Homo sapiens: one gene and its partners. The protein of the gene in region 4 interacts with the protein of the main gene of each other region in a pairwise test. Each region holds a gene or a part of one and is shown on either strand. Other genes may lie near its edges.

Region 1 (7,000 bases), on a different chromosome or scaffold from region 4:
TTAACAACAATAAAATACTACAAGAGTTAAAATAAACGTGAAGGAAGAAAATTACAGAGGGAAAAATGCTCAATCCAAAACATTTAGTAATAATAAAAAAGCAGCTAAATGAAAAAGGGAGAATTGTGATTACACTGTCAATGGCAGGATACGCTGTGGTGTTATAAGGAGATTGGGTCTGGTTTCTAATCAAGGACTGTAAAATGTTTAATAATTCTATTTGTATAAACTGAAACTAGCCCTTATTTTCTAGGCAACAAGTTGGCAAAAACCTTGGGTTTACCCATAAAGTGAATTTCTTAAGATATTTTTTAAGAACTCCTGTCCTGTTATATCCAGAGACATTATCAAATTTTAAAAGGCAAATAATTCAAAAAGAAACAGCTATTCAGTACATATAAAGGTAAAATACAGTTATCTTGAAAACACTTGTTTTAGAAAAGGAAATAAGCTAACTAGACACTTTACTATAAAAATTTTCCATATCTTAGGATGGCAGTTTAAGAAACAGTCAAATTTGAAAGTATCCATGTTTTAAGCGGGGAATGAGGAGTGTGGGGGAGGTGGTGCCCCGTTTCACTGCTGTAAGAAGCTTCAGCTTTGACCGCTACAGTGGTAGGTAGGCTCTTGTCACACAGTTTGGAAATACTTTACTTTAGAGAGATTCAGATCAAGCAAACAACTGTGTCTGCTCATTCTCCTCAACTTTGCTGTCCAAAGTTGGGGGCTGGGGGAGCACTTCTGTCGCTATTCAAATGGCAGTGTTTTGAGAGAATCCATTTTTTTATTTCTCCTCTATTCCTAAGCATTAGGAACTATGAGAGAAGGACATCTGTGCAGGTGCCCAACTCGTAACCTCATTAGTTATTTCCAGGGGGAAGTGCCAGCAATAGTTTACCACACTGGAAATACTGATGGCCAAGCCCAGCACGCCTCCCAGCAAGCCTTGTTTGTTTTTGAGGGCGAGTTTTGGCATAGATGGCACTCTCCTGTCTACAGCATACACCTCTGTGGAATCAGCACCCCAGAGGCCACTCCCCAGTGGCTTTCAGAGGAACAAGACTCTGGGGACTCCTGGCTATGAAGCTTAGTATGAAAAGCCTATTTCAAATATGCAATGGGATTTTCCCACCCCAATTTTAAAAAGTGAAATTATATTTTCTTCTGTAATATTTGTATCCTAAAGTCAAAGGCACTTCTAAGTTTAATTATCTGCAGCAAATGCTTTAAAATTAACAGTGCATATCATTTTAAAGTTGACCCTATGAAGTTAAAAGCAAACTCATGATTTCAAAACACAGTGATCTAAGGTTCCAAAGAAGGTGATCTAAAATCATAAATTCTGGCCCCAGAACACTGAACCTTCATCAGGTGAGTTCAATTAGAGACGACAGAAAGTAACCAGAAAAATACATGAATACTTCCTAAAACCTGCTGGAGGTTTTATCAGATGCTCCTAAAAATGACACGAAACACAAATTTCCTAACTTTCCTGTTGTCTGCTGCCTGGGGCTGCTAATGTGACTGACTATCAGATAGCCTTCAGGAGGTGGTAGGAAAAATGGATGGAGACAAAAATGTAGCAGACAACATGAACAGTTTGATCACGGTTACAAGAGCCAGACCTGTAATGACAGAAAGAGGACAGGAACAAAATTTACATCTCTCTTAAAATAAGTGTGAAAGAAGCATGATTCAACATGTTTTTAAATATTAGTGCAAATTCCAACTATTATTCTTACATATAAAGTTATTAGAGATTCAAACGCCTAGGTTAGCAATGTTAATTCAGAGGAAAAAAGTTGACAGCTTCCCTCAAAATGTTCAGAAAACACCCTATTTTAGTCTTCATTTGCTAATGTCTCAGTAGACAACCATATTTTGGCCCCACTTAAAAATTTGCTTAATGGTGTTCCTAAAATGCTTCGTCTGCACAGATTCCCTACAGGAGAAAATGGAAATGAGGAGGAGAGAAACTCCGGTGTCCCCGAGGTGTCGGTGTGGTGAGGGCCGCTGGCGTTGAAGTACATCCTGCTCTGGCCCAGCTCCCCATAGCAGGCCTCCAGGGGGCCACTGCGCTGTTGCCGCAGCATCCTGCTCAGTACGTCGACTTCATCAGCCAGGAGGGAGAGCTTGTGAAAGGCTGTGATGGAGCCACCCAGGCTGATCTGGGCCTCGGGAACCCAGCGGAAGTAGCACAGTTTCCACAGTTTTATGTGTGTTCCAGAGACACGTGGCAGAATAACACCGTGCAGGTTGGCGGGTTTGGAAAACCATTCTCTAAAATACTGCTCCGTATCACTGTTCTGGCTGTCGGTTTGCTGAGCTGGATCTGGCTTTGGTTTTAATATCAATGAATTTCTCCTTGGAAGTAATTCTTGGTCACTGATGATTCCATTCTTTAAGGCAGACGGCATTCCTCTTAGTGTGGAGCTGTAGCTTTTCTATACAGAAGAGATTTTATTATGTTCCGGGGATTCCCTTTTTAGAAAGATTGAAGGATGCAATGGCAAATATAAACTCAATACTATGAAAAATTAATGGAATTTCAGCCTCAAAGAACATTTTCCTCCCTTCCTTTGTGTCCTTATTCTAATCCTCCTCCCCTGGAATTACACTTTTTTATGTGTTGACTCTACCTAGGCTGTTACTATCAGCCTGAATGGGGGCGGGATGAGAGTACCTCCTATCCACTAATTTGCTTAAGGATAAGTTCTAAGACGGGCTAGAAAAAACACTAGACCTGGCCGATTCTATCAAGAACAATGGCAAACTGAACAGAGGCAGTCAGGAGGCCAAATGTCTGATTCTTTGTTCTGTACCTTTCAGTAGTCTGCAAATTTTCTACCAAAAAAAATCCCAAGAATTTATTTGGGAATTATTAAAAAGGCAAACAATGAATGTTATTAGGACAAGAATATAGCAGTCAGGAGGCCATGACTACATCACAGCCAGGCGGCATTCCCTGCCACAGTGGCGGCTTGAATCATCAAGAAATGGATAAATGGGGCTTTAGTAAATCAGGCTTGCAGGCTCAAAGCTGCAATCTGCCCACTCTCAGGTACTGAGACTTTGTGGGCCTCAGACACCAGGAAGAAAGCTGGGATACAGTCATTTGAGTTAAAAAGGGAATGACCCCTCAGAAACCCGCATTAGCAGTGTTACTCTTGGAAGTGCCTTTACTTTTAACGCTCTCTGTTCTGAAAAAGAGGTGTTTGGTTACGTGTGAGCCAACATCACGTTTTGTTAGCTGTGATTTACCTTTGTCCGTTTAAAAGACTTCACGGAGCCATTCTGTATACAAGGTGTGCTCTTTCCAATGTAGAAGGGGTTATGGAAAAGGGTGCGATCCTTTGCTGTAAACTGGAGAGACCAGTCCCAAACAGAGGGGAATTTTAAGCCCTTCTCATCACCCAATTGGATGTTTTTGCTTATAGCAAATTCCTGCAAAATAAATAAATAAATATTTGCAAAACTAAAGATTCTCTCATGAATGCCTTTTTTCAGATGAGCCACTCATCATTACACAGGTTAAATGTTCTGTACTGCAGCCCTCAAAACCCACCAGAGTGGCACTTTCACTTCAAGAGAGGAGACGCTCCTGGCCTTTGAGCTCAGAGGGCCCCACAGTCCCCATGAACAAGGAGTGTGCTTTTCAGGTGCCCTCTGCCTTAGGACCCCAAGGAAGCCGTGCCCTTTGGGCAATAAGAATGTTATTAAGAGAAGTTTCACTAACATGATACTAGAAAGTCTTAAACATGTTGAATTTATTTCTATAATTACAGTATTTTACTTTTATGAGCACACGGTCAGTACATTTAAGTAGTTACCTGTTGGTAAGTGGATTAACAAAATCTTTGGATGGAAATCACTGCCACCAATTTTATAACTTACTTCGTAAGTGGGGAGCTACACTTCACTGAGCCAGTGATCTCAAATCACAGACCACAGACTCAGGGTAGGAAGGAAGGGATCAACTCCCTGTGGTCCTAGCATGTGGCTAAAACCATGGAGACCATGTACACAGGAGACCCCTCCTTCACAGGAGTCCACCTCTAGCCCGGACTCTGGGCGGGTGCAGCCTAGTTATCTGGCTTCCCACCACAGTAAACTGAGGCAACACAAGGCTACAGGGTGACAGCCAACCACCGCATTGTGAGGAAGACATGGAGCTCCTCTGGAAGGCAGCCCAGACCATTTCTATGAAGCACAGTCACATTTAGCAATGTGGAGAAAGGACTCTCATCTCAGCTGATTGATGGCAGCAGGCTACCACAGCAGTGTATACACAACAGTTCGCTGGAGGAAATAACTCCAGACACAAAGTCGCTGGATGATGGGAAATGTCTGATTCTTTGTTCTGTACCTTTCAGTACTCTCCAAATTTTCTACCAAAAAAAAACCCCCAAGAATTTATTTGGAAATTATTAAAAAGGCAAACAATGAATGTTATTAGGACAAGAATATAGCAGTCAGGAGGCCATGACTACATCACAGCCAGGTGGCATTCCCTGGCACAGTGGCGGCTTGAATCATCAAGAAATGGCTAAGCTGTGTAACAGCACAGGGCATTTTGTAAAGTTTTACAAAATTTTCTATTTCAAATAAGTAAAAATTCATTAAGCACCAAATACACATACTCTTAACAGTTTTGGCCAGGCGCAGTGGTGACTCATGCCTGTAATCCCAGCACTTTGGGAGGCCGAAGGCAGGCGGATCACGAGGTCAGGAGTTCAAGACCAGCCTGGCCAATATGGTGAAACCCCGTCTCTACTAAAAATACAAAAATTAGCCAGGCATGGTGGTGTGCACCTGTAGTCCCAGCTACTCGGGAGGCTGTGGCAGGAGAATCACCTGAACCTGGAAGGCAGAGGTTGCAGTGAGCCGAGATCATGCCACTGTGCTCCAGCCTGGGTGATAGAGCAAGACTCTGTCTCAAAAAAAAAAAAAAAAAAATTTTAGTTACTTGACATTTCATCATGTACATGGATTAAAAACAATCCATTTGCTTCAAACACTGTTAAGAGCTGAAATCTAGTAAAACATGAACCCAAACGTGTTTTAATGGCCCTTCAGTAAGTATATAGAAAATGTCCTCTTGGCCAAGCACGGTGGCTCACGCCTGTAATCCCAGTACTTTGGGAAGCTGAGGTGGGCGGATTGCTTGAGTCCAGGAGTTCAAGACCAGACTGGGCAACATGGCGAAACCCTGACTCTACAAAAAAATACAAAAATTAGCTAGGCGTGGTGGCATGCGCCTGCAGTCCTAGCTACTCAGGTGGTTGAGGCGAGAGCAGTGCTTGGACCCAGGAGGCAGAGGTTGCAGTGAGCTGATATTGTACCACTGTACTCCAGCCTGGGTGACAGAGCCAAACTGTCTTAAAAAAAAAAAAAAAGATGTTCTCTTTTTTAAAAGGTAAAAATTAAAAATATTTATCCCAAGAGAGACCAGATTTTCTATAAACACTACCTGGCCACTAGCACCTAAGGTGGCCTCAGAATGGAAAAAAAAGGAAGAAATGCTTTGGGCTTTTGCCTGTGTGGAAGGGGCTGAGAACGGTTAAGAATCACGACCCTTAGACAATGACCAGTTCCTGCTAGGGAGGAAGGGAGAGGGGGATTCATGTTAGTATTTGTCAGAAAAGGCTTTTGAAAGAGCCAAATTAAAAAGAGCACTAGAACATGAACAGGGAAAGCAGAGGAAATACTTGTAGAAAGTATTTTTTACAGCTCCCTCAATACAATTCAGTAATGTTCATTCCTGGTGAGAAGTCTGTCCGCACACACAGCATCAGCCAAGCAGCAGAGGCAGTGGTGTCTGGGGGCTGGGAGTCCTCCACGCAGATACCCACCCATGCACTGCCCAGTCCCCAGACCCCAAAGTCTTTGTCCTCGCCTCACGCACCTTTTGCAGGCTCACACTGTGTGCGCACGGGGTAGTGACGGGAGACAATGGGGAAGAGCTGAAGGAGGCAAACAAGGCCAGGGGGAAAGCCTAGCTCGAGGCAGAGAGGGGCCCCAAGAATGATTATGGTGACGAAAAATAAAAACAAGCAACTGGGAGAGCATGTATTTTAGGAACAAATGAGCGTTCCATGCCTCAGGAGCCTCTAAGCCTGTATCACTGGTTCTCAGCACAGTATCTGGAAAGGTCAAACTTTCCTGGTGGGGTGGGCAGGGGACAGACTCTGGCTCTATCACCCAGGCTGGAGTGCAGTGGCACAGTCTCAGCTCACTGCAATCTCTGCCTCCTGGGCTTAAGCCATCCTCCCACCTCAGCCTCCCCAGTAGCTGGGACCACAGGTGCGCACCACCATGTCTGGCTAATTTTTGTATTTTTTGTAGAGACAGGCTGACGGTGTTGAGTTTCTTTGAGCCCTGGGTTCCCCAAAAGTGGCAATGCTGGACAATCTCTCCTGCCTTTTGTGTCCTGAGAACTGGCTCCTGTGGACTGAGACTGCCCTCCCTCCTGATTCCCCTGTCTTCTGACTATAAAATCCCAGGCCTTGTCCTTTTCTTTGGGATGCCCATTAATTAAGTTCTCCCTCCTGCAATAGCCTAAATAAAATCAGCTCCTTAACTGACCAGTGTGTTTTGTCTTTTATACCAACAAATCCAGAATAATTCATATGTCTTTAGGAAAATTTGCATAATGATTCACAGTTTACAAAATGTTTCACCTCATACAATGAGACTAAAGGCATAAGTGTTAGTTTGACAGATCCATTTTACAGGTTAGCAACCTGGACTCTCAGGCTGAAGCCTGAGTGGAACATGGGCCTAGCACTTTTCCCAGACCAGGGCCAGAACTCAGGTTTCCCGCTCCCTAGGTCACACTGCCTAGCCCAGGGCCTTACGGCTGAGGCTGAAGACCCCGGAGCTCACTATGAGGGCAATCCTCTTCCTAGAAAGGCTTCCTGAAGGTCCACAAGAGCTGCCCCTTTCTGTTTCTCTCAATGGTCTCCACGGCATTTGTCAGCTTCTGTTGTTGGTTCGAGGT
Region 2 (6,981 bases), on a different chromosome or scaffold from region 4:
GAAACTTCTGTGTCACCAAACACAGAAACCATCAAAGAAAATCTTTCACTTCCAAAATTAGTCTATAGAAAAAAAAAAAGAAAATCTTAACCCAAATAAGAGACTGAGGCAAGAGCTTCAATCAATCGAGGTTTACTGAGCCAGAGTTGGAGCGTGCCCAGGAAAGCAACACAAGTCAAAGAAACGTCTGTGGCCTGTGCTCTCCCAAGAAGTTTTCAGGAGGCTCAATATTTGTACATTTCTTTAAAGGGGAGAAGACAGTGAGGCAAATGGTTATGTTTTTGTGAGACTCTTAATTAGTGTCCCGTAAATCTAAGCTATATGGAAGATAGGGTGAACACTGGAAGAACAGGGAGTAACAGAAGAGCCAATTATGCAGAGGTCTCAGGTTAGGTGGAGGAATGATTGATCTCATCTTATCCTTGTTCTGCACCTGGGCAGATAAACTTGTAATTGACATTGTCAGTGTGAAATTTAACAGACTTTGGTTTTAGGAGTTAGGTTTAGGTTGCAGACCTAAAGTTGCAGTTGACATGTCCTTGTTTTATAGGAGGATATACATCCTGAAAGTTTTAGGGACTGGCAAAGAATTTACTGCTGAGCAATTTGTGATTGCAGTCACCTGGAGATTCATGAGGCTTTTTGCCTTTTTGTGGGGATCTGGTTAATGCATAATATTTTGACACAAGGTTGCAAGGTAACAGGTATCCATTTGGGAAAAGAATGACAGTTTTGGAGAACATTAGTTCTGCAGCATAGAATGAAGTGTTGCCGGAATAAAATTAAAAAAAAAAAAAAAAGGCTGGGTGTGGTGGCTCATGCCTGTAATCCTAGCACGCCTGTAATCCCAGCACGCCTGTAATCCTAGCACGCCTGTAATCCCAGCACGCCTGTAATCCCAGCACTTTGGGAGGCCGAGGCGGGTGGATCACCTGAGGTCTGGAGTTCGAGACCAGCCTGATCAATATGGCGAAACCCCATCTCTACTAAAAATACAAAAATTAGCTGGGCATGGTGGCGGGTGCCTGTAATCCCAGCTACTGGGGAGGCTGAGGCAGGAGAATTGCTTGAACTCGGGAGGCGGAGGTTGCAGTGAGCCGGGATTGTGCCAGTGCACTCTAGCCTGGGTGACAGAGCAAGACTCCATCTCAAAAAAAAAAAAAAAAAAAAAAAAAAAAAAAGGAATGCCAGTGTTGTGTGGCTCAGTCTCCAAGCTTAACTCTCCCTTTAGCATAACAAATTTGGGGGTCCTGAAATTTTTATTTTCCTTTATGAAAAGATCAATAATCCATTTGCATAAAAAATAAAGTCTATATGGAAAAAGCCACCATCACAGCCAAAACACAAATAACAAACTGTAACTTGTTACAAACAGCATACTTGTAACTCATTTCAAAATAAAGAGCTGATTTCTCTAATATATAAAGAGCTCTCATAAGTCAATAAGAAAAAGACCAATGGTAGCCAGGCGTGGTGGCACATGCCTGTAATCTCAGCTACTCAGGAGGCTGAGGCAGGAGAATCACTTAAGCCCAGGAGGCAGAGGTCATGGGGAGCCGAGATCACACCATTGCACTCCAGCCTGGGCAACAAGAGCGAAACTCTGTATCAAAAAAAAAAAAAAGAAAAAGAAAAAGACAAATGGCCCAGTAGAAAGTGTGGCAAAGGATACAAACAGACCATTCACAGAAAAAGATAGATAAATAACATCTCTCAGGAAAGTACCTCCCAGTCACCCTTTGTTGGAAAGTTGTTGAAGGATGCACTTCAGCAAAATGAGGGAGTAAACCAAGAGACATAGGCTTAAGATCCAGGCAAGAGTGAGGCGCTTAGGAGCCCAGGAAGCCAGAAGAGCCTGGTAGCACTGAAGGAACACTCAGGCCACCTTGGAACAGAGAGGATGGGATTGCCATGTGGTTCCACATGGCTCTGAAAATAGACAATGGCTAAGCTGTGCAACAGACTGCCTATGACATTTGGTTGCCCAGAGCTTCTGTGAAAATACTTCAGGACAAGGCTTTCCCCCACCCAGGGGTGGGTTGGGGAATAGAGTGTATGCACTTTGTTTTGTCCAATTTTAGACTTTAAAATCCTCTGAGGCATCAACTGGTGAGGGTGAGGAAGTGGCCCCATAGACTGAATTGGGCCTGCCCCACCCTGGTACCTTTCTGTTCTGTCACAGTGACAATTCACAGCTCAGAGGTCCTTTGGGAAACTTTCTCTGACATCGCCCCTATCCTCTTGCCAGCTGGATGAAGCAGCATCCACCAGAACTGCTACCATCACTGCAGGGGGCTTGGTGGGCAGAGGCCTGGCTTGTCTCCATTAGCACTGCGTTCCTGTGCCCAGTGTGGCCCCAGCAGACACTGTGGGTTCAGTCAATCAGCCCCCAGGCTGGTCTGGGACTGAGTCATCGGAGGGAGTGGGTGTTGGGCACAGGTCCCTGCCCTAAGAACCTTCCTTCTTGGGCCCGAGGAACTCCCACTGGGGCAGGACTAGCTGCTGGGAGGAAGTAGGGCTTACTGAGCGTCTACCTGGGCTAGGGAGTGGAGGTGAAGGTGGACTCCTCATACAGCTCATATGCAGGCACTGGGCTGTGGAGCCTTAGCCGCTTTTAATTGGCAAGCCCTGGCTTCCTGGAGGAGGAAAGGGGAAGAGAAGTGCCCTGGGGGCGAGGATTGAGTCAGCTGCATTGTCATAATGGAAATAGTACAGCCCTGGGTGTCCAAGACTTCCCCTCCATGGGCCTCAGAATCGTCCATATGATGTAACACTCTTTTTTTTGAGACTGAGTCTCGCTCTGTTGCCCTGGCTGGAGTGCAGTGGCTCCATCTCGGCTCACTGCAACTTCTGCCTCCTGGGTTCAACCGATTCTTGTGCCCCAGCCTTCTGAGTAACTGGGATTACAGGCGCACACCACCACGCTTGGCTAATTTTTAGTACAGACGGGGTTTCACCATGTTGGCCAGGCTGGTCTCGAACTCCTGACCTCAAGTGATCCGCCCGCCTCGGCCTCCCAAAGCACTGGGATTACAGGCGTGAGCCACTGCCTCCGGCCAAAGTAACACTTTTGCACAGGGAGTTGGACTTGAGTGACAAATGGGTGACAAAGTGCTTTGTTAACTCGCAGATGTGAAGGGGACACTGCGGCTGACCGCCTGGTGACAGCTAGCCAGTGGTTGAGAGACCGCAAGATGGTTCCTCGTCTTTCACTTCCCTCCGTCCCAGGTCTGAACTCGGACCAGCTGGAGCCTTTGGGGGACCACGGATTCCCCTTTACACTCACACAGATTTCTCTTGTCCGTCACTCACTCACAGTCCAGTAAGGATCCTGCTGTCTATTCCGCGAAGACATCTTGAATGCAGGGACAGCCATTTGGAAGACTGTCCTCGAGGGTGGCAGCAGCCTCTCAGGACGGGGAAAGCCAAGGTGCCCACTAAGCCCGTCTGGGGTGGAGGGTGGCAGGCCGGGGTGGAGAGGATTGGAGGCCGCCTGAAGGAACCTGTGCTCGGTGGCATTTACTCAATGTGGGGGTCTGACACCTCCCAGCTCATTTTGTCCCCATCTTCCCCTTGCGTCAGGTCCCCACCCAGCAGGAGGAGGTCCGAGGATCTGCGCGACGCTGGCCCCGCGGAGTGTGGGGGACTTTTCCTCTCAACCACCAGTGCCCCGCAAGCGTGGGTGAACAGTCCTCCCTGGCTACTGTGGGACGCTGGGCAGGCGACTTCGCCTCTCTAGGCCTCGGTTTTCCTGCTTGTCAAATGGGGCTGATGCCGGCGTGGGCTTCTTCAGGCGGTCGCGAGCGTTGACCCCTGGAGTCAGCGAACCAGCCGCGCACGCACTCCCGGGCGGAGGTCGGGGCTGGGGGGCGACGCCTCCCGTCTGCGCGCCCCCGGCCCCGCCTCCCGCCGGCGCACCCCTCCCTCGGCTCCGCCCGCGGCCCGCTTCTTCCTCCCGCGGGCGGCCCAGCCCTAGCGCCCCGCGCTCCGCGGGCAGCCCCCTGCCGCCGCGCCATGTCCGCCGGCTGGTTCCGGCGCCGCTTCCTGCCTGGGGAGCCGCTCCCCGCGCCGCGGCCGCCTGGGCCGCATGCCAGCCCCGTGCCCTACCGACGGCCCCGCTTCCTTCGCGGCTCCAGCTCCAGCCCCGGGGCGGCCGACGCCTCGCGCCGCCCAGACTCCCGGCCCGTGCGCAGCCCCGCACGAGGACGCACGCTACCCTGGAATGCAGGCTACGCCGAGTGAGTGCCCCTCCCCGACCCCCAGCTCAGGCCCGGGCCTGAACCCGCTTCGGGTCCTGCGCCCGCCTAGAAAGCGGGAGGAGCTGAGTGACAGTCCCCACCCACCTGTGGACAGCCCCTTCTTGCCCTCACCTCCGAATCCTGACAACTTCCCGGTCATCCCGACCCAGCGTTTTCCTTGGGATTCCGACCTCCCCCTCAGAGAAGACAGGAGGTCGGGAAGGACCTGCAGCCCAGGGGCTTCCAAGATGAGGCCCAGAGACTCGGTAGAGTTCCAGCATTCGGGGCTTTGGAGATTTCCCCTCGCCCTCTACCCCCACCATCTCACCCTGGGTATGACCTGCGCTGTATGGGACAGGGCTTTGGGCTGCGACAGGACAGGGGCAGGAATGGCAACCTACCCTTACCGTCTAGCCCTGGGTCACCAGGTAGGCTCCAGAGGAGCTGGGCCCTGACTTTTACCTTAGCCATGAGGCCAGTGAAGTTAGGAAGCTTACATCGTGGTTGTCTAAGTGTGTGTTAGGGACAGCACTGGGGAGCTGTTGCCCCAGAGGGAGGGGTCTTCTCCCTGTGCTGGCTTGGGTCCCTGTGCCCATGGGGACATAGGTGTGTCCCTGGAGGGTCGCTTACCATTTCCCGGCCTCAGGATTATCAATGCAGAGAAATCTGAATTCAATGAGGATCAAGCCGCCTGTGGGAAGCTGTGCATCCGGAGATGTGAGTTTGGGGCTGAAGAAGAGTGGCTGACCCTGTGCCCAGAGGAGGTGAGTGCAGTCTGAGTTCTTGGCTGGAATCCCTCCGACAGGCTGGGGCCACGACCTGCAGGCTGAGGTTCTTACCCTGCTGCCCCAGGTCCTAGTTAGGTTGCGTCAGGGGACAAGTGGGGAAGTCAGGCAGAGGCTGACACTGAGCCCTTCCTGTGCAGTTCCTGACAGGCCATTACTGGGCACTGTTCGATGGGCACGGCGGTCCTGCAGCAGCCATCTTGGCTGCCAACACCCTGCACTCCTGCTTGCGCCGGCAGCTGGAGGCCGTGGTGGAAGGCTTGGTGGCCACTCAGCCCCCCATGCACCTCAATGGCCGCTGCATCTGCCCCAGTGACCCTCAGTTTGTGGAGGAAAAGGGCATCAGGGCAGAAGACTTGGTGATCGGGGCATTGGAGAGTGCCTTTCAGGAATGTGTGAGTGTGTGGCTTTTGGCTGGGGAAGAAGTGGAGATTTTGCCCCGGGGATCTCAGGAAATGGCATCTCTGTATACCCATGGTCATCACACCAGATCCTTGGATTGGGAGGATGAGATTGGGTTGGTTGGATTGTTACTAACAGCCATCACTATCAGCATAACCCCTCTCATTTATCCAGCACCTACTGTGTGCTAACTGCTTTTACCTGCATCATCTAATTGAATACCCTATTGGTCCTTGGTGCAGGGGCTGGTTTCTCTTCCTATTTTGAGTAGCACTTCCCTTGTCTAGATCTCCTGACTGCAGGGATCTTGGAGGTATGGCTGGACTTTGGGCTGGGACTGTCAGGCCTGCTGGTAGAAGTGAACTGTAGGGTAGGGTGGGGATTGAGAGACAAAGTAGTATGGTGGCAGAACAGGCAGCAGCTAAGGTGGCCTCGGTTTTCCCCAGGATGAGGTGATCGGGCGGGAGCTGGAGGCCTCAGGCCAGATGGGCGGCTGCACAGCCCTGGTGGCTGTGTCCCTGCAGGGAAAGCTGTACATGGCCAATGCTGGGGATAGCAGGTGAGTCACCCCTTGGAGGGTGGGCAAGGGTGGGATGGGGAGGGCATAAGCAGCAATGGGGACAAGCAAAGGTGGCTGGAAGTGGAGGGATAGTAGGAAGGATTGACTGGCTGAATTGTGTGTGTACTTGTTATGTGTCGAGTGTGGACAGTGGCTGCCGGGGAGGGCAGGGACCTCAAAGGCCCCGCTAAAGGGCTAAGCCTTCACCCTTGCAGGTCTTAGGTAGTCATGGAGGGCTTTAAGGGATCATCATGGACAGAGCTGGATCCTGGTGGTTGGAGGAGGGACTGGTAGGAGGGTGGCCATGGGTGAGGGTGGAGGCCTCCTCCTAGACCTCTCCCTTCTCTCCTCAATCCAGGGCCATCTTGGTGCGGAGAGATGAGATACGGCCACTGAGCTTCGAGTTCACCCCAGAGACTGAGCGGCAGCGGATCCAGCAGCTGGTAGGTGCCCTTGGCAGCATGGAGGCTGTGAAGCTCCAACTCCTGGGTCCAGGGCCATAAGAAGGAGTATGACCTGAGCGCAGCCTCCCCACCCCAGGCCTTTGTCTATCCTGAGCTTCTGGCTGGTGAGTTCACCCGACTGGAGTTCCCTCGGCGGCTGAAGGGGGATGACTTGGGACAGAAGGTTTTGTTCAGGGATCACCACATGAGTGGCTGGTGAGTGGGGATGGGGGACAGGTAGGAAGGGAGACCCCTGGGATCCAGGCCCAGCCGTATGGCCTGGGGCCCCCCTCCACCTTGGCAGGGTGGCACTGTGAGGGTGTGACAGCTGGGCCCTGAGTTGGGGAAAGATGAGATGGGGCACAGGGCTTGGGTTGATGCTGGCTCTGCTCCTGGTAGGAGCTACAAACGTGTGGAGAAATCGGATCTCAAGTACCCACTGATCCATGGACAGGGTAGGCAGGTCAGTGCCTGGTCCTCCTCAACCCCAAGAATCCCTCTTCATTGTCCCCTGCAGAGGTGGGAGCTCCTTTGCCTCTTGCTGGTAGCTGTGG
Region 3 (7,783 bases), on a different chromosome or scaffold from region 4:
TAGTTTTGTAGGGGGAGAGCTTCAGAATTCTCTGTTTTTAAGGCCTGCTTCTCCTTCTGGCTGAAGTCTACTAGCCATGTCTCTGGAGCTTGAGGCGGGGACAACAGCCCACTTCTCTGAGTGATCCCCCTACTTTGCAAGGTGAGCAGGAATGATAGCTTCTGGTCTTCTTGGCTTGCCTAAGTGTGGAATCTTTGACCTACAGATGAGGTGGAGCAGGGGCACTTGGGAGAAGCCAGCCAGGGTGAGGAGGAAATCCATATGGGAGAGCAGCCCAGCAGTGGCGAAGCCTGAGCCAGATAACACCTGTGTGGGAGAGTGACCTGGCCCAGGTTATTAGAACATTCCCAGGCATCAGAGCTTGGGTCAGGTTGGGAGGGCTCCATGTGGCAGGGTGACCCTACATGGAATATTGGAACATAGGCAGGATGAGGAGAGCATCTACCCAGGTGGGTGGCAGCAGCAGCTTGGCATAGGTGTTAAAGCCCAGATGGGATGAGAGAGGCATCCACATGGAGGAGGGAGCAGAGGTAGTGATGGGAGACTGGTTACATGTAGGGGGCTTGGTCAATTAGGTAAATATATTAAAGATTACTGTGCCCAGGCTTCTCACAGAGTTATAATTATAGGTACAGTTGTGGAAAGGGTGGAAATTAGAGGAACTCTGTGGTGTTGGCTTGGAATTGGTAGCATCAGGGTAAACTCTTGGTTTTCCATATGTATATATGCCTACATATGGGAATAAATATAGATGTAAAGTGTGATAATGTATGTGCCTGTGCATAATATCCATATTCTTTAGCACTGTCCACTGAGAGGGCCTGGCAGCAGTAACACTCTAATGGCAATGAGCATACCTAACACACAGACATTGGTTTCTAGATACCGTTCTTTACTAATAAATGCAAGGGCTTCCGAGTCTAATCATGAGGAAACTGCATGCCCAAATTGAGAGAGATTGCTACAAAATAACTGGCCTATACTCTTCAAAAGTGTCAAGGTCATCAAAGTCAAGGAAAGACTGAGGAACTTGTTCAAGTGTGAAATAGGTGAAAGAAACAGGACAACTAAATACAACATGTCGTTTTACTGTAAGGAACATTTTTGGAGTAATCAGTGAAGCTTGAATGAGGTCTGAGGAATAGAGGGCAAGTAGTAATATCTCAACCATAATTTCCTGATTTGGGGTAATTTTCAAGAATATCTTTGTGGGAAATATACACTAAATTATTTGGCGTAATGGGGCAGCATTTCTGCAAGTTACTCTAAAAAATTCAAGGGAAAATATTCTTTTTTTCTTTTTCTTTTTCTTTTTTTTTTTTTTTGAGACAGTCCCGCTCTGTCACCCAGACTAGAGTGCAGTGGTGCAATCTCAGCTCACTGCAACCTCTGCCTTCCAGGTGCAAGCAATTCTCCTGCCTCAGCCTTCCAAGTAGCTGGTACTACAGGCATGCGCCACTACACCCAGCCCATTTTTGTATTTTTAGTAGAGACTGGGTTTCACCATGTTGGCCAGGTGGGTTTCTAACTACTGACCTCAGGTGATCTGCCCTCCTCAGCCTCCCAAAGTGCTGGGATTACAGGCATGAGCCACCATGCCCAGCCAAGGAAAAATATTATTTGTAACTTTTGTAACTTTTCTGTAAGTTTGACATTGATTCAAAGTAAAAATATAAAATATTCTCAAAAATATATGGGCCAGGCATGGTGGCAGGCACCTGTCATATTGGCTACCAGAGAGGCTGAGGCAGGAAGATTGTTTGAGCCTAGGAATTCAAGGCTGCAGTGAGCTATGATCACGTCACTGCTCTCTAGCCTGTGTGACAGAGCAAGGTGCTGTCTTTAAAAAAAAATTAAAAATTAAAACTAAAGTGTTCGATTGTGTTGCATGCTGCTGCACAGTCAAATAGAAACTCTAAAAAGTCCACCTCAAAACAGATCATCGGAGGCCTTAGCAAGAGTGGTTTGATTTGAGAGTGGAGGCAGAGGCCAGAGCTGAGTAGGCTAAGGATGAGACCTGTGACACGTGGAGATGGCAGGTGTAGTCACCTTGGTTTGGAGGTTTAGCTATGAAGGGGAGAGAAGAAGGGCCCTCAGAAGAAGGGAAATTATAGTGAAAGATCTGGAAACAATTACATATACCTAGGAATGTTTGAAAAACAGAAATAGGGAAAGTCTTGGAAAAGTTCTGTCTTCGGATATTTGAAAATCTTTCAAGACAAAGAGAAGCTTTATTCTTTATTTTCAGTGGGAAGAACCAGAACCGATGTTTATAGAATGGATTTTAACTCAACACTAGAGAACATTTGAAGCCCAGCGTGTTGGCAGGCATCTGTAGTCCCAGCTACTCAAGAGGCTGAGGCAGGAGGAGCCCTCGAGCCCAAAAATTTGAGTGCAGCCTAAGCAACAAAGTGAGATTCCCATCTCTAAAGAAGGAAGGAAAGAAAACATTTGAGCTGTCTAACAGTGGAATAGTCAGTTCCCTTGTGAAAAGTGAGCCTCTTGTCACAAAAAGTAGAGAACACGAGGCTGGAAATTCAGCTGTACAGCAAATTCCTGGAAGTAACTCCTCCGTGGACTTAAGAATGCGGATAGGTGGGCCTCCCACGCCCACCAGGCACCCACTGCATTCTCAGCCTATTGTTCTATGACTTTAGGAAGCAATGATCCCTTTCTGAAATCTTGAGTATAGAAGGAAATTACTAGTTCTTGGTGTTCTAGATCTCACTTTTCAGTGTTTTACCTGCCCACTTATAGAAATTAAGGAAGAAAAGACTCAGTACTCACTGGTACATTTTAGTGGGTTTCTTTGTTGTGTTTATTGTAACTGATTTCATATTTGTCATGATCAGTATCTCATTTTGTTCCTTAAATATTATTCTAAATTTGGTTCTCGTGTCCAGAGGTGGGTACATTTCTTTTCATCTGCCTCATCAATGCAAGGTATATTCACAGCACCTCATTGTTGGGAACACTGAGCAAGCATGCAGAAAGGGCTGCTTTCACCTTGCAGAATCCTGTTTGCGTTAGGCTTGACTTCCTTAGACATTGACACAGGGTCACTGACTGTACGGTAACTGGGGTAAGCTCAGTCATTTTGTGTTTATTTGAGGTCAACCCAGGGCTCAAGATTTCACCACAGAGATTATTCTTGAGGTGATCTATAAACCATCCCTTCCTTAGCTTGGTCCAAATAAGTCCTACCCCTACCCCTTATCTAATGAAATTAGTTGTCATTTTTAGTGTAGTTGAAAGCAGTTACTTTTGACTTTTCTCTGTAGATGTCCTCAGATGCTGGTTCTCCAGGCCATGGACTTGTTTCTGCAGAGCTCACCACTCTTGTTTCTCAAGAGCTAAGTTAACATTCTGGAGTGCCACATACTCAGAAGCACAGACTTGCCCAGAAATCTTCTTAGACTCCCTCTTACACAGATAGCAAATACACAGCTCCTTAGTTTGAGCATTTAGGGCCTCCTGCCAGTAAGTTCATGTTCTTGTCATGCAGACCTCTGTGCAACTGCTGTTTCTGTGTTGCCCTTAGGGTCCTGAGGGCCTTGCCTAGAATAATCCTCATATAATTCCTCCGACAGGAAAGCTGTGCTTTCTTCCATGGCTGCATTCTAAATAACAAAGGCATGATACTATACATAGAGTAGGAATTTGGACACCAAATCGGGATTCTGTGTCCCTGTCTTATTCGACAAAAGTGCACATTACTGGGGAGATGGGGGCGGCATTTTAAAAGGAGCTTGGTATAGCATTAGTAATCGTTAAAAAAAAAAAAATAGAAAATAGCCTTATCTGTAGCAGTACAGTAGTTTGTTTCTGTGCACACACATCTGAAATACCACTTGTGCAGAGAGCTAGCGAGCAAGCGAGGGCGCAGCCTGACATTAACAAGGGAGGAGGCGGACAATGAGTACATTAGTGGTTGTTGCACTTTCTGTTTTCTTTATATCCTTTATCTTCAAGTTGCAACCTCCCCCTCATCTAGTTCCTTTAAAAATGTGATATTTAGTGATCTTTCTTTGTATGCCTCTGCCAAGACATTATTGAAGCTTCTTTTTTCCCTCACTGCAACAAAAGGCAGAGAATGGTGTTTTGAGTTTTTGAGAGGCATGGCTACTATAACTGTCCAACAGAGGCATAACTAAGAATTGGGTTTTTATATTCTGAAAATGAACACATGAAGTTAAATGTCTTCTGATAATATATCACCTCTAAAAATGTCTTTATTTGTTCTATCCAAGTATTTCTTTAATAGTTTTACCAAGAAAAAATAGAAGTGGTTTTGGTTATGAAAAATTGGATGATATTTTAATAATCTTGTAAGGTGTCCAGCATATCCCACTTTATTACAATTAACTTTTTTCTGCACTATTCAAACGAGGAGTAGAAAGGTAATTTTTTTCAAAATATCCAGAGACAGGTTGTGAACAGAATAACAGAATTTAAGCCTTTTAACATGTATGTAAAAGGCAGTTTTTGCATCAGGAAGACAGTTTTCTAAATTCACTACAGTATTTTGGGGAGTAATTCTTTGGTTAGATATTTTAAGTGCATTTGAGAAACAAAATTTAGTAATCAATATATTTAAAATTTATATTATTCTTCCCTATATTTGAACAATTTGTCCAAAATGCAATCTGTTCATATTGGATTTTGCCTGTTCAGATCTAAGTGGGAATCAGTAGTTTCTTTGTTTGTCGCCATGGAAACCAGTCAGCCAATCTGAATGGCTCTTAGATCATACAGAACGATGCAATGCTCCCTGCTCTCAGTGAAAGTTCCTCACTGAGTGAGTGGGGCTGACTCTTCCTGCCTCCGGCTCTTGCCTCCCAGTGCCATGCAGGTGCAGGATGCAACCAGGCGGCCCTCAGCCGTGCGCTTCCTCAGCTCCTTTCTCCAGGGCCGCCGGCACTCCACCTCAGACCCAGTACTGCGGCTGCAGCAGGCCCGGCGGGGCTCTGGCTTGGGCTCCGGCTCTGCCACGAAGCTGCTGTCCTCGTCCTCTCTCCAGGTGATGGTGGCTGTTTCCTCAGTCAGCCATGCAGAGGGAAACCCAACTTTCCCCGAAAGAAAAAGTAAAGGTCTCTTTCTTCTTATAGATTGCCATACCTATGTATATAAGTTTGAGGAATGGGAATCAGCTGTGTTGTGTTTATACCTTTTTAAATATTGGCAGTTTATTCTATATTATACTTTTTGCTGTCTGTTATGCTATTTTAGTGAATATATAAGAGGATATAAAATGATCAAATGTTTTGTGTTTTTTTATTAAAAATATAGGTTTGAACAAAACTCATTCTCTTGTAAAACATCTGCTTCTACAGTTTCTTCCTCCTAATTGCCAGTATGTGTGGAGATTATTATATGTGAAAGCTTTTTTACATTAAGAGATATATGTCACTTTGACAGGGAAACAGTTTTGTTTTCTTGACAAGATGAAGGTGATTTTGCACTGGCTTGTCATCTACCATCCTGAGATAAAATGGAAGCTATTTCCCATGTTACAATTTCATTTGGAGAGTGGAATTTTGAATTTTCCTTTCCTTATATGTTCTAGGAAATTTAGAACGTCCAACACCAAAGTACACAAAAGTAGGGGAGCGTTTACGGCATGTCATTCCTGGACACATGGCATGTTCCATGGCGTGTGGCGGTAGAGCTTGCAAGTATGAGAACCCAGCCCGCTGGAGTGAGCAGGAGCAAGCCATTAAGGGGGTTTACTCATCCTGGTGAGTGATCCTGTTGGTCTTTCATAGCTCTGTTGGATACAGGAAGGACACTCTGTGTGAGCCAGGAGCCCTGAAGTGTGGGAGGAGCAGTGTGGGACTTTGAAGTCAGGACCTCACTTTGCCAGTCAGTTCTGGCTTTGCCTTAGCTGTGTGATCTTGGCCTATTGACCCTCAGTTTCTTTATCTGTAAGGTGGAAATAATAAAACCAAAACCATAGGGTTTTTTAATTAAGTGAAATGATATATATAAAGTGTATTGAAGAAATGGATAATTAGATAGCTCTTAAATTTCAGAAATGTTTAGAAATAATAAAACTTCAGCTATAAATTTGAGAAAATTATGATGTACATGTGTAATTTTTCAGTTTCATGTAGGTAAGCTTTAGCTTTTATGTTATTCCTATATTCTATATGAAAGGTCACATTTTCATACAAATACCCTTCAGTCTACCCTAATAAAAGTGGTACAAGTTGTCAGCTCAGTAGAAAACATAAGATATTTGCTTTTTTTATGGTGTATAAGTGAAATTAATATTGTTCTTTAATCATACTGCTTTTTATTAAACAGTAAACTAGTCAAATACACCTTTTTGATGTAGTAACATCTGAAAAATTCTGATAAATCACATTTGAAGCATACTTAGAGGAATTCACTGTTTAATTCTAGTAGTGAATTATTTTATACATCAAGAACCCATTTTTCAATTAGATATTTGTCAACTGGCTTATCCAGCTTACAACCTGTACTTTTTCATATTGGATTTGCTCAGTACATCTGTAGTGATATAGTCTGGGGTCCACTGTCATTATTGTTCACCACAGGTCATATTCTGGTCCATCACTATCATACTAATAGTATGAAGAAGGAAACATTCATAGTCAGACAAGAAAATTTCTAATAATGTAGCTTAGGTCATTTGCATATTTTTGCTTTATTGCTGACTAAATCATGTGAGTCTTTTTCACCTCTGCTGCTTTCACGTTACATCCCCCTTCATCTTACACTAATTATCACTGGGGGTCCAAACTTTTGGGTCCCATGTTAAACCATATGCCTTCTTTCAGAGGGAAAGGTGTCATTTTGGATCCTGCCCTGACAGTCTCTGTTATTCCCCTGAGATTCATGTGACCCACGACTTCCAACAGACTTACCTTATATATCTCATCAGGCCACTGATGAGAAATTTGAACAGAACAGAGTGAAGCCAGAGCCCAGAGGCCTGACAAGAGTAATAGTCATTTATTGGGCGTCTGCCCACTCATTCATTCAGTAAATATCCATTTGGCTGTAGGCCAGTCAGTGTGCTAGATGCTTTCATACTATTATCTTTTATCTTCATAAAACTCTTGTGAGCTGTTAATGCCATTTTATCAATGAAAGAATTGAGTTCCAGAGAGACCAAGTAATTTGCTACCAAGCTAGAAAGTAGAAGAGCCAGCATTTGAAACCAAGCCCAACTGACTCTGGAGCCCATATTTGTCACCAAATTACAGTAACTCAGTATTTATTCATAACTGCATGTCAGGATTTGTGCCAAAGACTTTACATCCACATCATATTGAATTCTCACACCAACCCTGTGAGACAGGCATTATTATCCCCATTTAACACCTTGTAACTAAGATTCAGATAGTTGAATAACAAAATATCTCCCAGTTGGCCCTCCTCATGTAAGTCACTACCCATTGAGTAACAATCCAGACTGTTACCTTCACCACCAGCTGAGTTTTCTCCATCATGTCCACTAAAATCTCTTGAGAGTTCTTGAAAATACTTTGCTGGAATCCACAAATAATTTATGTCTTGGAATTTTTTCCAGGGATTTAAGAAGCTAGAGTTTCTTAGAGCTCTAATCATCCAAAATTGAAGCCAGATTTGTATAAGAATATTCTTACACGGGTGCACCAAAATCTCAAAATTCACCACTAAATAACTCATCTATGTAACCTGAAATAATCTGTACCCCAAAAACTATTGAAATTTTAAAAATTAACCTAAAGAGAAAAAAAGCAAAGTATCTAACAGTGCCTTTACTAGACTACCT
Region 4 (7,058 bases):
AGAGGAGCAGCCTCTTGCTCATGGCCTTCCCCTGACCTTGGCCTAAACGAGACACCTGGGTCCCTCTTCCTCACTTCAAACCCCCAGAGAGAGAGAGAGAGAGGGCAGCGGGGGACCTTGTGGGGAGAGTAACACGAAAGACTCAGAATATTACAGCCAGAGGGTTGCCGGGAGGGATCCGGAAGCCATACCTCACGCTGCAATGAGTGGACGGGGCACAGGAGGAGAAGTGTCCTGTCCTGGGGGCCGGCGTGGGGCGGGTGGGAGAAGAGTAAGGCCTGGAAGCCGGGGCCGGTGGAGGCGGAGCAGCCGTGGGTGATGCTGTCTGTCCCACAGGTGTTCCTGGGGGAGGTGAACTCTGGCATCAGCAGTGCCCAGGTGGTGGTGAAGGAGCTGCAGGCTAGTGCCAGCGTGCAGGAGCAGATGCAGTTCCTGGAGGAGGTGCAGCCCTACAGGTGGGAGGCCACCGGGCACAAAGGCCTGTGCTGTGCGGCCCCCTCCTCTCCCTCCCCTGCTCGGCCCGACTCCCCCTCCCCACCTCCTCCCAAGTCAGGGGCCGCCTGTCCACTCCCGCAGGGCCCTGAAGCACAGCAACCTGCTCCAGTGCCTGGCCCAGTGCGCCGAGGTGACGCCCTACCTGCTGGTGATGGAGTTCTGCCCACTGGTGAGCTGCTGCCCGGGGGGATGCTGGGGTCTTTGCTGAGCCGGGGCCCTCCCTTGCCCTGCCAGTGTCTGGTGCCACCCCCTCCTTGGGGGCCTCACATCCTCCCTAAAGCCAAGACCCAGGGACCCTGCCCCCACCACCTTCCAGAGGAGGCGATGGGGAGACCTAGCCTCACCAGGGAGGGACTGTGGGGGCTGGGCACAGAACAGGCCTGGGCTGGGGCTCCCTGCACCCCTGGGGAGCTGCCAGCTGCTTGGTCACCTGCTTGTGTGCCCTGTGGTTCAGGAGGAGGCATCCTGGGCCAACTGGGGGGGGGCACTGGCCCACTTGGGCTCCACGGCCTCACTCAGGCTTGCTTTTGCCATGGGGGGCTGGGCCTGGCCACTTCCCCAGGCTGCCTGGAGTTCTGGGCCTGCCCATCAACGCCCCCCGCCCCGGGGACCTGTCCCCCCCTCCCCCTGAGACCTGCCCATCAACGCCCCCCTGCCCCGGGGACCCGTCTCCCCCTCCCCCGAGACCTGCCCCCCACCCCCTTCCACATATGCAGCTCCTGCACTGAGCCGAGGCTGTCTGTGGCTGGGCTGGATCCCCTGCTGGCTTCCCTCGGGACAGGGGCCCTCACACACTGGCGTCTGGACTCCTGACGTTGACCGTCCCGGGGCTGGGCTTTCGGCAGGTCAGGGGCTGCCGGCCAACCCTCGACCACCAGCCCCAGACTCCATCAAGCAGATCCACTTGGGCCCTGTGTTTCTCTCTCTACCACAGGCCAAGGGACTCCTGCTGCCCGGGGCTGGCTGAGGGGCAGTGGAGAGGAAGCCTTCAGTCCAGCCCAGCCCTGGGGGACACGGCCCCCCTCCAGGAACTGCTGGGTGCTGGCCACTGTGCAGGGCACGAGGCTGCTCTGGGCAGCTGCTGTCCCTCAGCTGTGGGTAGGGGTGGAGGAGTTGGGGAGGTAGGTGGGGACCTCCCAGGGTGGCCAGCCCCCAGCCTGCTGGTGACTGCGCCACACCCCCTTTCTGCAGGGGGACCTCAAGGGCTACCTGCGGAGCTGCCGGGTGGCGGAGTCCATGGCTCCCGACCCCCGGACCCTGCAGCGCATGGCCTGTGAGGTGGCCTGTGGCGTCCTGCACCTTCATCGCAACAATTTCGTGCACAGGTGAGGGCGGGCGCGGGCCAGCGGCCGGGAAGCCCTAGGCCAGGCCCCTCCCCTGAAGGAAGGGCATAGGGCGGGTCCTGCCTCAGGGGGCTTGCGAGGACCGGCCAGGTTCATCTCATGCAGCATCAGACAACCACTATGCAGAGGGATTTTATGACGTTTTTGAAAAATTGGGAAGACAATGGTTTGACACCCACTTTGCAGGTTTAGACGAAGAGATGCGTACTGTCAAGCTGGCCTGTTCTCTGTCCCCGAGGCAGTCAGCCAGCACCCTGCAGCCCCGCGCCAACCCCACACTCTGCTAAGCCCTCGCTTTGGGGCTTGAGGGAGACAGACCCTGCTTCGAAGGACCCTGGAGGGAGGGTTCTGTCCTGCTTGGGCCAGGATGCCCAGCCCCTGGGGACCCCGGGGGGACATGCTGGAAGAAGTGGCGAAGGACACGTGGCCCCGTCAGCCCCAGACGCCGCACGGCTGTCCTCTCCAACAATATCCTGGTGCTGAGTGATGACTCAGGCGACTCCAGCATCAGTGATTTTGTTGAAGAGGGCAGCTGCCAGCCTCCCGACCTGCCTGCCGGGCCCCAGCTGCCCTGCCCCCAACCCCAACCCACCCCACTCCACCCCCTAGGCCCAGGACACATGGCCCTGTAGCGATCCCCTGGCACGCAGACATGGGTTTTATGTGGGGAGGGACAGGCTGGGTTGGCCTCTGTCCCCACCCTGAGTCCTGAGCACAGAAGTAATACGGCAGCTGTGGTAATATCTACCCAGTACCCTGTGCCTCCTCACACCCACGTGACCAGCCAGGCAGGGTTCAAAGCCAGCAGCCAAGGCAGGCTGGGTTGGAGGTAGTGCCAGGCGTAACCTGCATTCTTTCCAGACCCTACCCAACCCTGGGGCCAGTGGTGGCTCAAGTGAGAGTGAGCTCCAGCTCTGAGTGGGCATGGCAGGGCTGGACCCTAAAACTGGACTCCGGCAGCCGGCAGGACCCCTGGGACACTCCAGGCCTCAGTTTCCCCATCAATTCCCACCTCCTGGGGAGCCGAGAGTGATAGTGTAGTAGAGCTAGGAGGAGAGGGTCCTGGAGAAGCGTGGACCGGTCCGGGTGGGTTCCGGCAGGTTCTCACCCTCTCTAGGCCCCATTCTCCTCTGCACTGTAACATTTGAGGCCCACGCACACAGTCCCTCCCCAGGTCTCAGGGTTGGGCACAGAGTAGGGCCCTGGGCAGGGATGGGGGGTGGCAGTGTCTCCAACGCCCCTTCCAGCCTGGACTGTGAGCCATCCAAGTGTTGGCAAAGGACCCTGTGCTGGATGCCCCCGCCCGGCACACCCCACTGACCCTCCCCCTGCCCCCACCCGGCACACCCTGCTCACCCTGCTCACCCTGCCCCTGCCCCTGCCCCTGCCTGCAGCGACCTGGCCCTGCGGAACTGCCTGCTCACGGCTGACCTGACGGTGAAGATTGGTGACTATGGCCTGGCTCACTGCAAGTACAGAGTGAGTGGGGTGGGGTGGGCTGGGCTGGGCATGAGGGGCAGGGCCTGCGCCGGCAGGGGTGACCCGTCCCTGTGCCAACAGGAGGACTACTTCGTGACTGCCGACCAGCTGTGGGTGCCTCTGCGCTGGATCGCGCCAGAGCTGGTGGACGAGGTGCATAGCAACCTGCTCGTCGTGGACCAGACCAAGAGCGGGAATGTGTGGTGAGTGCGGCCCTGGTGGCACCGTGAGGGGCCGAGGCCGAGTGCCACCTGCCCACCCATGTCAAATCATGGCCATGAGTAGTGAGGTCAGGGGGCTGCCGGAGCCACCTGTAGTGGCCACACGCCAGCAGCCCAAGTGGCTGGTTGGGTGGCGACCCCACACCGGGGGAGATACCACCCTGACAGGGTGCCCCAGGGACCCCATGGTGGGGTCAAGGCATACGTACAGGGCCAACGGCCCGTCTTCAGCATGCCGGGGGGTCTGTCCTGAGACGGGGGCCTTGGTGAGTACCTGTCCCTGGGGAGAGGGTCTGGGTGGGGTGTTGGCTGCCTTCACGGGAGCGTAGGTCGGGCCGTGCCAGGCAGAGGGGCTGACGGTGGTGCTGGGATCTCCCACGGCCGCAGCCTGGAAGCCCCTATCCTGAGTGCCTAGCCCGGAGCGTTCATTCACACCTGGTGTAGACTCGGAAGGGGCAGGGCCGAGCCGCCAGGGGAGTGGTCCGCCCCGGGGTGGGCGCCCCTCCCTGCCTCACCTCTGCTGCTTCCCCAACCGCCCCCACCACTCCCGGGCTTTGGTCTGGCCGCCTTCTGCTTCTGGGGAACTCTCAGATCCCACGGGCCAGGCCCCCTCCCTGAGCTTTTGGGGCCTCCCCTAAGCCACTTGACTGCCCCATCATGGACACTGTCCCCTCCTCACCTCTCCACCAAGGTGCCCCTTCCTGGCCTGCCCACCCACTGCACGCTGGCTGGGGTCTCCAGTCACAGGGCTCTGGCCAAGGTCATGGTGACGTCTTGCCAAATCACCTCTGTCTCACTCTGCAGCCTCTTGGGACAGCCAGGGACCAAAGTGGCTGGGTGAAGCCACAGCCCACGGGGAAGGAGACCCCAGTTACCCTACCCGCCTGCACGCTCTGTGCACCCCTGCCTGTTACCCAGCCCTGCCCATGCTGGCCTGAGGCGTCCCCTCTCTCCCCTTCCTTCCCCCTCCCTCCCCCTCCCTCAGCCCCCTGCTGGTGCGGGCCCTACTCCGCTTTGGGCTCCACGCCCGCCCTCCAGCTCCCCCAGGGCAGCTCCCACACCGGGCAGTGTCTGGTCTTCAGTGCATCAGTGAATGAATGAATGAGTGGACAAGCAGATGGATTCGGCCAGCCCGGCCTTTATGTGCAGGCTCCACAGGTGCTGGGCTTGGGCCTGGCAGGGTGCACATTGCCTGCTGAAAGGACGCGCTGTCCTCAGGGAGGGGCGGCTGGTATGGTACCAGGCCCCGGTCCTGAGGCACTGGCGTGATGGCGGGAGCTGCCCCATTCGGCGCCCCGGGGATCCTGCGCGGTCCTTGCTGTGGCAGGCTGTGCCCAGCCCTGGCTCACGGCTGTCGCCCCACAGGTCCCTGGGCGTGACCATCTGGGAGCTCTTTGAGCTGGGCACGCAGCCCTATCCCCAGCACTCGGACCAGCAGGTGCTGGCGTACACGGTCCGGGAGCAGCAGCTCAAGCTGCCCAAGCCCCAGCTGCAGCTGACCCTGTCGGACCGCTGGTGAGGGCCCCACTGCCCTGTCCCGGACAGCCAGGCCGAGATGGGGTATCCTGATCCCCAGGCAGAGGCGGCTCACCCTGACCCCCTGGCGTTCCAGCCCTGCCTGGTCTCCCCTCCCCTCTGGTAGGGCCTCCACCCGCCACCTCTGCACCCCTGTGTACAGGGAGGGAAGGCTTAAGGATAGTGCCCAGCCCACCTCCTGCTCCCACGCTGCTGGGCTTGCCTTGGCAGATTTGGGGTGTCAATTAAGTGGGAGATACCCTTAATGCCCCCAAGACACTGGGAGTTAGGGGAACCCCCATCCCTGCTCCAGGGACGCGTTCCTGGCCAGCGTTGCCTCTGACGTGGCCCCCGGGGGACCTCCTCGCAGGTACGAGGTGATGCAGTTCTGCTGGCTGCAGCCCGAGCAGCGGCCCACAGCCGAGGAGGTGCACCTGCTGCTGTCCTACCTGTGTGCCAAGGGCGCCACCGAAGCAGAGGAGGAGTTTGAACGGCGCTGGCGCTCTCTGCGGCCCGGCGGGGGCGGCGTGGGGCCCGGGCCCGGTGCGGCGGGGCCCATGCTGGGCGGCGTGGTGGAGCTCGCCGCTGCCTCGTCCTTCCCGCTGCTGGAGCAGTTCGCGGGCGACGGCTTCCACGCGGACGGCGACGACGTGCTGACGGTGACCGAGACCAGCCGAGGCCTCAATTTTGAGTACAAGTGGGAGGCGGGCCGCGGCGCGGAGGCCTTCCCGGCCACGCTGAGCCCTGGCCGCACCGCACGCCTGCAGGAGCTGTGCGCCCCCGACGGCGCGCCCCCGGGCGTGGTTCCGGTGCTCAGCGCGCACAGCCCGTCGCTGGGCAGCGAGTACTTCATCCGCCTAGAGGAGGCCGCACCCGCCGCCGGCCACGACCCTGACTGCGCCGGCTGCGCCCCCAGTCCACCTGCCACCGCGGACCAGGACGACGACTCTGACGGCAGCACCGCCGCCTCGCTGGCCATGGAGCCGCTGCTGGGCCACGGGCCACCCGTCGACGTCCCCTGGGGCCGCGGCGACCACTACCCTCGCAGAAGCTTGGCGCGGGACCCGCTCTGCCCCTCACGCTCTCCCTCGCCCTCGGCGGGGCCCCTGAGTCTGGCGGAGGGAGGAGCGGAGGATGCAGACTGGGGCGTGGCCGCCTTCTGTCCTGCCTTCTTCGAGGACCCACTGGGCACGTCCCCTTTGGGGAGCTCAGGGGCGCCCCCGCTGCCGCTGACTGGCGAGGATGAGCTAGAGGAGGTGGGAGCGCGGAGGGCCGCCCAGCGCGGGCACTGGCGCTCCAACGTGTCAGCCAACAACAACAGCGGCAGCCGCTGTCCAGAGTCCTGGGACCCCGTCTCTGCGGGCGGCCACGCTGAGGGCTGCCCCAGTCCAAAGCAGACCCCACGGGCCTCCCCCGAGCCGGGGTACCCTGGAGAGCCTCTGCTTGGGCTCCAGGCAGCCTCTGCCCAGGAGCCAGGCTGCTGCCCCGGCCTCCCTCATCTATGCTCTGCCCAGGGCCTGGCACCTGCTCCCTGCCTGGTTACACCCTCCTGGACAGAGACAGCCAGTAGTGGGGGTGACCACCCGCAGGCAGAGCCCAAGCTTGCCACGGAGGCTGAGGGCACTACCGGACCCCGCCTGCCCCTTCCTTCCGTCCCCTCCCCATCCCAGGAGGGAGCCCCACTTCCCTCGGAGGAGGCCAGTGCCCCCGACGCCCCTGATGCCCTGCCTGACTCTCCCACGCCTGCTACTGGTGGCGAGGTGTCTGCCATCAAGCTGGCTTCTGCCCTGAATGGCAGCAGCAGCTCTCCCGAGGTGGAGGCACCCAGCAGTGAGGATGAGGACACGGCCGAGGCCACCTCAGGCATCTTCACCGACACGTCCAGCGACGGCCTGCAGGCCAGGAGGCCGGATGTGGTGCCAGCCTTCCGCTCTCTGCAGAAGCAGGTGGGGACCCCCGACTCCCTGGACTCCCTGGACATCCCGTCCTCAGCCAGTGATGGTGG

Evidence for each region.
Region 1: the proteins of AATK (region 4) and MTMR10 interact in a two-hybrid assay, tested with the Homo sapiens proteins (one study listed by BioGRID and IntAct).
Region 2: the proteins of AATK (region 4) and PPM1M interact in a two-hybrid assay, tested with the Homo sapiens proteins (one study listed by BioGRID and IntAct).
Region 3: the proteins of AATK (region 4) and PTPDC1 interact in a two-hybrid assay, tested with the Homo sapiens proteins (one study listed by BioGRID and IntAct).

What each region holds. Positions count from the first base shown.
Region 1 is NC_000015.10:30,939,629-30,946,628, forward strand, and holds part of MTMR10 (myotubularin-related protein 10), read right to left. Parts: exon of another isoform or gene 3,748-7,000; intron 3,481-3,747; exon of another isoform or gene 3,445-3,480; coding exon 3,262-3,444; exon of another isoform or gene 2,445-3,261; coding exon 1,842-2,444; 3' UTR 1-1,841.
Region 2 is NC_000003.12:52,241,811-52,248,791, forward strand, and holds the start of PPM1M (protein phosphatase 1M), read left to right. Parts: upstream 1-3,948; 5' UTR 3,949-4,014; coding exon 4,015-4,238; intron 4,239-4,356; exon of another isoform or gene 4,357-4,504; intron 4,505-4,884; coding exon 4,885-5,002; intron 5,003-5,163; coding exon 5,164-5,418; intron 5,419-5,871; coding exon 5,872-5,984; intron 5,985-6,342; coding exon 6,343-6,427; intron 6,428-6,510; exon of another isoform or gene 6,511-6,524; coding exon 6,525-6,643; intron 6,644-6,826; coding exon 6,827-6,890; intron 6,891-6,981.
Region 3 is NC_000009.12:94,079,685-94,087,467, forward strand, and holds the start of PTPDC1 (protein tyrosine phosphatase domain-containing protein 1), read left to right. Parts: upstream 1-4,779; 5' UTR 4,780-4,846; coding exon 4,847-5,090; intron 5,091-5,566; coding exon 5,567-5,738; intron 5,739-7,783. UniProt on the Homo sapiens protein: May play roles in cilia formation and/or maintenance.
Region 4 is NC_000017.11:81,121,189-81,128,246, reverse strand, and holds part of AATK (serine/threonine-protein kinase LMTK1), read left to right. Parts: intron 1-336; coding exon 337-455; intron 456-576; coding exon 577-664; intron 665-1,686; coding exon 1,687-1,820; intron 1,821-2,291; exon of another isoform or gene 2,292-2,370; intron 2,371-2,873; exon of another isoform or gene 2,874-2,971; intron 2,972-3,232; coding exon 3,233-3,317; intron 3,318-3,398; coding exon 3,399-3,520; intron 3,521-4,903; coding exon 4,904-5,053; intron 5,054-5,423; coding exon 5,424-7,058. UniProt on the Homo sapiens protein: May be involved in neuronal differentiation.